Linked DNA regions of Homo sapiens. The protein of the gene in region 2 purifies or fractionates together with the protein of the main gene of each other region. This does not show direct contact. Each region holds a gene or a part of one and is shown on either strand. Other genes may lie near its edges.

Region 1 (3,823 bases), on a different chromosome or scaffold from region 2:
TCTTACTATAGATCTAGGGCCCTATACCATCTGCTCCTGCCTACCTCCCTACTCTCACTCTCCTAATTCCCTAAAGATATTCTAATCACATGGGCCTTCCTGCTTCCTTGAACAGCCACATTCAAGGCCTTACCTTTTGTCATTCCCCTTTGGCCCATCTTTTCTAATCATTTAGATCTCTCCTCAAACATCGTCTCCTTGGAGAGGCTTTCCTCATCACCTTACCTAAAATATTCACAAATCCTAGTCTGTTTATGGGCCAGTTATCAATTTATTGCTCCAAATTCATTCTTCATTGTCTGCTCTACAAGCATAGAGCTTGGTTCCTTAAATAAATATCTTTCTTTTTCTAGGTGCCATGATGTTAAGTTCTGTCAGCAGGGGATAAAAGAGAGATATTACAAGAAAAAGGAGCTCTTGTTCCTGACTCATGTATCCTTGGCAAGCTTCTGCAGTGGAGGCAGCTTCTCCAGTGCCTAGCTCTTGATATTAATGGTGGTCAGCAACACTCAAAGACCATCAGCTTTCACTGGTGCTTCCTCTCCCTTGGGAGGTTTCAAAGCAGAGTATCTCTAACAAGATATCTCCCCATAAACAGTTTTTTAGAGTACTCCAGAACAGGGATTTATAAACTTTTTCTTAAAGGGACAAATAGTAAATTAGGCTTGCAGATTATAACATCATAACTCTACCTTTGTAGTGAGAAAGCAGATACAGACAATATGTAAATAGATTGGGCATAGCTGTGTTCTATTTAAACTTTTTTTTATAAAACAGCTGGCAAAAGGACTACAGTTTGCCAACCCGTGACCTAGAGGGCATATTTCCCACCAAGTTTTGAAGGATGCATTTCCAGTAAGTTCCACCAGAGCAACACCAGTGACTGCTCTGCTACTGAGTCATGGCCATATTCCTTCCAATAAGGTAAGAATCTTAGCCTTGGCAAAAAAGGTTCTTACTTGGGCACTCTATCTCAGCCCTATCAGTAGTGGCTGCTTCTTAAAACTATTCTTGTATTCTTTTAATTTTCTTTAATTTCCCTGATATAGTCAGTAACTCTATTAAACTTACCCTCTTGAAAATACCTGTGGCTTCTGACTTATGATTGCATCTTAACCGACACACAGTTTATCTTGGTGTTTTTTAAAGGCATTTATCACTAACTGAAATTATATTGATTGTGTTTTGCTTGCTTTTACTTTTTTTTTTTTTTTTTTTAAGAGACAGGGGTCTCAGTATGTTGCCCAAGCTAGCCTCAAACTCCTGGGCTCAAGCAATCCTCCCAACTCAGCCTCCCCAGTACCCAGAACTACGACATGCACCACCATACCCAGCTTGTATTTGCTTACTATTTATTGATATCCACCACTCAATGTAAGCTCCATAAAGGTAGGCACTTTGGTTCACTACTGAATGAATTCCTGATACCTAGCACAATATTAGGTCATAACAGATTCATAACAAATACCTGTGACTGACTAAATTAATCTTTGGCCAAATAAACTGAATTTTTAGAATTTCAACTATTTGATTATATAAAATAGGGAGATGACAATAATCTCTTGCTATACCTGTGCTCACTCTCTCTCACATACACTCCTTATTCATTCATATCACTCTATCTCTGCTTATTGTATTCCCTCAGTCTCTATTCTAAAATTAGTAAATAACTTCTTTGAGTGCAAAAATTCACCTTCCTGTCTTTTAAACCTGTGAGGTTCAAGCAATACAACACAGAATCTCCCTAAGTATTTTACAAGGATGAGAAAACTACTACTGAGTGAGGTGGGAAAGATAGGCACCTTCTCCTTAAACCTTACCCACAAATGTTGGCAAGAGTCCAAAGAGTAGAAACAGTCGTTACTCTCCAAATTAATTTTGGCACTCTTGTTAGAACACTCAAAATATTCCTAATAATCTAATACTTCAGCCACATTACTTTAAAACATTTTTCGGAACAGAAATTTGTGGCTTGCTAATCTATAATTTTTAATATGCACCAGCTACTCTTTTAGAGTCTTTAGCTCATTCTTTCTCTTATATATACAAATAAAAATACTTGAAAATCAATCTTTCAACTTTTCTGCAGGTCCATCTAAGTTGGATTTTACCCCCATCCTCCCACACTTGTAGTCTTTCTTATTTTCACTTTGAAATACTAATATAATGCAATGGTTGCTGGGATGTTCAAAACAATACTAGCACTTTGTGAAGTCCAAGGGCCTACTGCTCAAATTCATCCAAAACAGCTAGAAAACAATGGAAAAATTCTGTTTTTGCTCTCTCTCCCTCCTACCTATTTCCTAATTCATCTCTGCTGACATGAGGGGGATAGAGAAGCAGAGAATGCCAAAGGGCACAAAAAGGGGGGAAAGCTGGGTATGAAGTCTTTGGTGGAAATCACTTCATTTTCTCAAACAATCTGAAGAACAGAGACAAAGGTAACAACACTGACAAAAGGATGACCTTCCAGTTCTTTCCTTCTTTTATACTGCTTCACTTCAGCATACGTTGGTTGTAACATTTCATTAACTCGTAAAGGCTGTTTTTTACTATATAACTTCATTTAACCTCTACGGCCTTGTCTCTGAATATCAAGTTTCACCAGTTGCTTCCAAGCTAATATGTGCCCTCTCTTTAGGACACTTAAGATTTAAAACAGTTTTAGGTCGTCTGACAGTACAATCTCTGTACTTGATTCTGACAACAGACTACCAAAGCCAAGAACAGTTATATAAAATTTTACATTTAAAGGAAATGTTAAAAAAAATGAAAACTTTTCATTTTTGTTTTTCAGAAGAGTAAGGAGAAAATGGAAATATGTAAAACATACTTTCTTTTCTTTCTGTTTTTTGTTGTTGTTGTTTTGAGACAGGATTTCGTTCTGTTGTTCAGGCTGGCTTGCAGTAGTGTGATCTCAGCTCATTGCAACCTCTGCCTCATGGGCTCAAGCCATCTCCCCTCTTCAGCCTCCTGAGTAGCTGGGACTAAAGATGCACGCCACCATACCTGGCTACTTTCTGTATTTTTTTGTAGAGACAGGGTTTCACCATGTTGCCCAGGCTGGTCTCAAACTCCTGGGCTCAAGCAACCTGCCCATCTTGGCCTCCCAAAGTGCTGGGATTACAGGCATGAGCCACCACGCCTAGCCACATTATGCTTTCTTAAAGACTGTCTGGAATTAAGGCATTTCTATTATTTTAGAGTCAATAACATATTTAAGTATAATTTCAATTGTTCAGATTATTATATTCTTGTATTTAATGGTGAGAGGTATTATTTCCCTTTTCAATTTTGTCATATTGCAAATTTCGAGGAAAATTAAAGTTATGTACGTCTCCAGAGATATTATCTAGAGATATTACCAACTGCGTTTTCCAAAACGCAATTGGTAAGAGTTTTTTTTCCCTTGCCTTACACTCAAGGTAGAGAAATAAATTATTTTCCACCATTGAAAAAAAAAACTGCACAAAAGCTTGTCTGGTTCCCAAAACAACTGCTTCTTCTAAAAGTTCTCAATGATTTTCATAGTATAAATGCTAAATTACCTCAACAGAAATACAACACAAGTTTGAAGGAAACCAGAAACCACCATAAATAGCAACTTTCAAAAGATGAGAGTACCTGGGCGCCGGTGGCTCACACCTGTAATCTCAACACTTTGGGAGGCCGAGACGGGTGGATCACTTGAGGTCAGGAGTTTGAGACTGCCTGGCCAACATGGTGAAACACTGTCTCTACTAAAAATACAAAAATTAGCCAGGCATGGTGGTGCGCATCTGTAATCACAACTACTCGAGACGCTGAGGCAGAAGAATCGTTT
Region 2 (3,823 bases):
TTTCTAACAATTAGCTGTTTGACATCACTGGGTGGATATAAGAGAGTCATTGCACACTTATGACGACTAAAAGAGAACCCCTGATTTCCAGCCTCACTAACACTCTCCAGCATCGTGTGCTTGTGTCCCTGTGTTCTCCATCTCAGTAACACACATTCACCCCTTGGCTAAGACCAGAAACCTTGGATTCTCCCTTAATTCTTCTCTCCCTCATTTTATCAGTGCGTCCTATGAACTCTTCCTTCGATATTATCAGAATCCAGCCACATCTCACTGACCCCACCACCACCACTAGTGGACACTAACTCTTGCTTGGACAGTTGCAATTGCTTATTAAGCAGTCTCCATGGTTTATCTGTTGGCCTCCTACATTCTGTTCTACTCAGCTAAATAAAGAAGAAAAAAGGGAAGAAAGGATACACGCTCCTTTTCTTAAGGGACATTCTTAGAAAGTGCCATACAACGACTGTCCCTCACATGACCTCACCCACCTGCAAGGGAGGCCAGAGAATGCAACCTTTATTGTACATAGCCATGCCCCTAGTTAAAACCATGGTTCCTGTCACTAGGAATAAAGGGGAAGCAGATAGCAACTAAATAGCAATCTCTGCCATAGGAAAATTCTCTGAAATTACTTTACAAGTAATAAGCAATCGAGGCAGAGCAGGAGCATATAAAAAGGCTCCTGAGATGAGGTTCTACAAATGCATGGGTCATTTGAGACACTGAAGAAGTCCCACAGGCCTGACTATTGAAAGCAATGAGACAGTGCCTGCCACAAGCAGAAATGGGGCGAACAGCCAAATCTATCGCTAACTTCACATTTTCCTAAACAGTTTAGCTTATGTTCTTTAATATTGTTGAGTTGTATGTTTTATAGAGTAATACAGTAACTGAAATGTTCAAAAGAAAATTGACCAGGCAATTCTGATAGTATGTTGTTCAGTGTGGAAGCTAGACCTAGGACTCAACCTCGGGGTACAGTTGAAAGATGGTGGAGCTTTGAAATCCTGCCTAGCCAGGCTCGTGCAGAGAAAGTGTAAAGGCATTTATTATAATTCAGCTATGCCAACCTCTTTGAACCTCTGTTTCTTCATCTATAAAACAGAGGTAATAGATAATGAGCAGTGTCTCAGCCTTTTTCAGGGCAATGGAAAGGTCAGCGATGAAAGGAGAAGAAAAAAGATAGCAAGAAAAAAGAAGGAAGACAGGACTCTAAAACTTAAGGAATAGAATGCAGGATAAAGGGGAGGCAAAAGCAACCTTTAGTTCTCCATAAATAATTCCAATGTTTTAGTTTGCTTCTGGCAAACTCATATGAGATGGAAAAGAAAACTTTAGCCACCAGATGTCTCTATCTCTGCACTAAAGCTAATTTTTTGTGTGTAATTTACCTTAAGATTCTCACATTTAAACACTGTAAACACAAATAATTTATTAATATGTTGTAGGTTTTGCTGAAATGTTAAAATTACCGTTGATATTTGATTGTTCAACCACTAAAATAAGTTGTCTTTGGATATTATTATAGAATTATTATCTAATCTGCTTATGAATTTATGATGGGGTTTTCTATACAGTATCCTAAAGACATCTCTTTTTTCCCACCAAATGTGTTATTCTTAGAATTGACTTCTCTTTGAAAGATAACGAAAAGCAGATCATCCTGGACCTTGCTGTCTATAGGTAAAGACATTTTCTACGTATTTATTTATGACATTTCTGTCTGTTTTCATTCTCAGTAGTAATTTTTTAGTTTGAAAAAATTGAAATGGAATTGACTTAGACCTATAGTTAAATGAAGCTTATTTGTTAAGACAGAGAAGTTACTATAATTTTTAAAAGCATGAAAATGAAAGGAAAGGTAAATAAAGCCACAATTTCATGGATATGAACTCAGGAATATCTAAGGCAGAGTTTAAATAATTCTCAGACCTGTGCTGTTTTCTGATGCTGATACTACAAGGACCCCACTCTGTCTTTGCTGGCATAGTCCTCTGTTTTTGTCTAAAATGCCTTCCTATAGTAGTAGGTATCAGGTGATCGGCTCCCCTCCCTCAGTCCCATCTCAGAGGCCTGGGGGAACACCTAGCAGCCCCTGTCACCAGTGGACCCTTCTTCCCTGCTGCCCTCTCACATCCTGCCTGTTTTCTCACCCATGGGTAGGAGTGGCACAGACCTCCTGCCTGCCCTCATCACCACACCCAAACTATTGTCCTTTTCTCCTCCCTAAAGCTCCATGGCTTTGACACTCAAACCTTCAGCCTGTATCCCCTTCTTCTCTTCTTTGTGGAAGCATCTAAAGGCAGCAGGTCACTCTGCCTCATTCCCTGAAGATTTTAGGCCCTGGTTCACTGTGCCGATACATCCTTCTGATGACCTCAGTGTCCCCTGGCACCATCTCAGAGGCTGCTTGCCTGTGCTTCCCTCTGCCTGTATCACCCTCGGTGTCCTTGTGGCTTGCTGCCTCGTGTCCTTCAGGCCTCTGCTCAGATGTCACCTCATTAGAGGGGCCTCTCTGCCCCACCATCTGACATAAAGCAGTACCTACCCCTGCCCAGCACTTCCTTCCACTCTTTCTACTTTTTGACTTCCTGCTGACAAAGTGTAAATTTACTTGTATTCTTAAAAGTTTGTGGTCAGAGCAGGAAGCTTGTTTTGTTTGTTCTTTCCTCTCTACATCTCCACACCTAAAACAATACCTGGCACCTGTTAGGTGCTCAATAAACACAAGAATGAATGAATGAATGAATGAACAAATACTGATGATGGGAGTATGACATTGACATGCATGAATGAATGGATGAATGTTTACATGCATGAATTATAATAAATGCCTTTCTCTTTTTAATGGCTTTTGATGTGCCCCATTTTATTTAATCTCTCAGTAACCCTGGGAGGTTGGAGGGATTATTACCCAAGAGGGGGTAACTTTTCCAAGAGTGAGTCTTGTCAAAGTGAACAGGGACCGAAGGAGCCAGAACATCAGCCCTCAGGACTTCAACCAACTTTGCTGTTTTGATTGTGGTAAAATACACATAACTTAAAATCGACCATTTCAACCATTTCAAAATGGACAACACCATGGCATTTAATAAATTCACAATATTGTACAACCATTACCATTGTCTAGTTCCAGAAAATGTTTATCACCCCAGAAGGAAACCCCATGGTCCTTAAGCAGTCACTGCCCATTCTCTGTCTTCATGGCAACCACTAATCTGTTTTCTGTCTCTATAGATTTGCCTATTTGGGATATTTCATATTAATAGAATCATACAACATGTGGCCTTTGTGTCTGGCTTCTTTCACTTACCATAATGTCTTCAAGCCTCATCCATGTTGTTGCACGTGTCAGAATTTCCTTCCTTTTTATGGCCAAATACTATTCCATTGCATAGATGTACCACATTTTGTTTATCCGTTCACCAGATGGTAGGCATTTGGGTTGTTTCCACCTTGGCTCTTGTGTACCAGGGCTAGCCTTAGTGTGGTCCCTTCCTCTCCACACCAAGCTGTCTCAGATCAGCTGTGTGCCTCTCCACAGAATTCCTGTCAATTCTTCTGCCTGCTTGCTGCCAGGTTATCTGCCTTTACAAAGATCCCAGCTCTTCTCCAGCTAGCTTCATATCCTCTGCTCCTCCAGCTTCCCAAGCTGCCGTTTCTACTGTTTTTCAGACAAATCACTGTTTCATCCTTGTAAGTCCTTTCCATTTTTAGGCCCTATGTCTGGTGTTTAATGAATGTATAACCCTTTCTTTTTCAGCTCTGTTGGCTGCTTCCTGTTCAGTCCTCAAATGGAAACATTCCTCATTCCCATGCA

Evidence for each region.
Region 1: the proteins of DNAAF11 (region 2) and HSF2 purify together in Homo sapiens (affinity purification with a luminescence readout; one large-scale study listed by IntAct). This does not show direct contact.

The regions. Positions count from the first base shown.
Region 1 is NC_000006.12:122,402,652-122,406,474, reverse strand, and holds part of HSF2 (heat shock factor protein 2), read right to left. Parts: intron 1-3,823. UniProt on the Homo sapiens protein: DNA-binding protein that specifically binds heat shock promoter elements (HSE) and activates transcription. In higher eukaryotes, HSF is unable to bind to the HSE unless the cells are heat shocked.
Region 2 is NC_000008.11:132,612,901-132,616,723, reverse strand, and holds part of DNAAF11 (dynein axonemal assembly factor 11), read left to right. Parts: intron 1-1,626; coding exon 1,627-1,686; intron 1,687-3,547; exon of another isoform or gene 3,548-3,699; intron 3,700-3,823. UniProt on the Homo sapiens protein: Involved in dynein arm assembly, is important for expression and transporting outer dynein arm (ODA) proteins from the cytoplasm to the cilia. Acts as a crucial component in the formation and motility of spermatozoal flagella.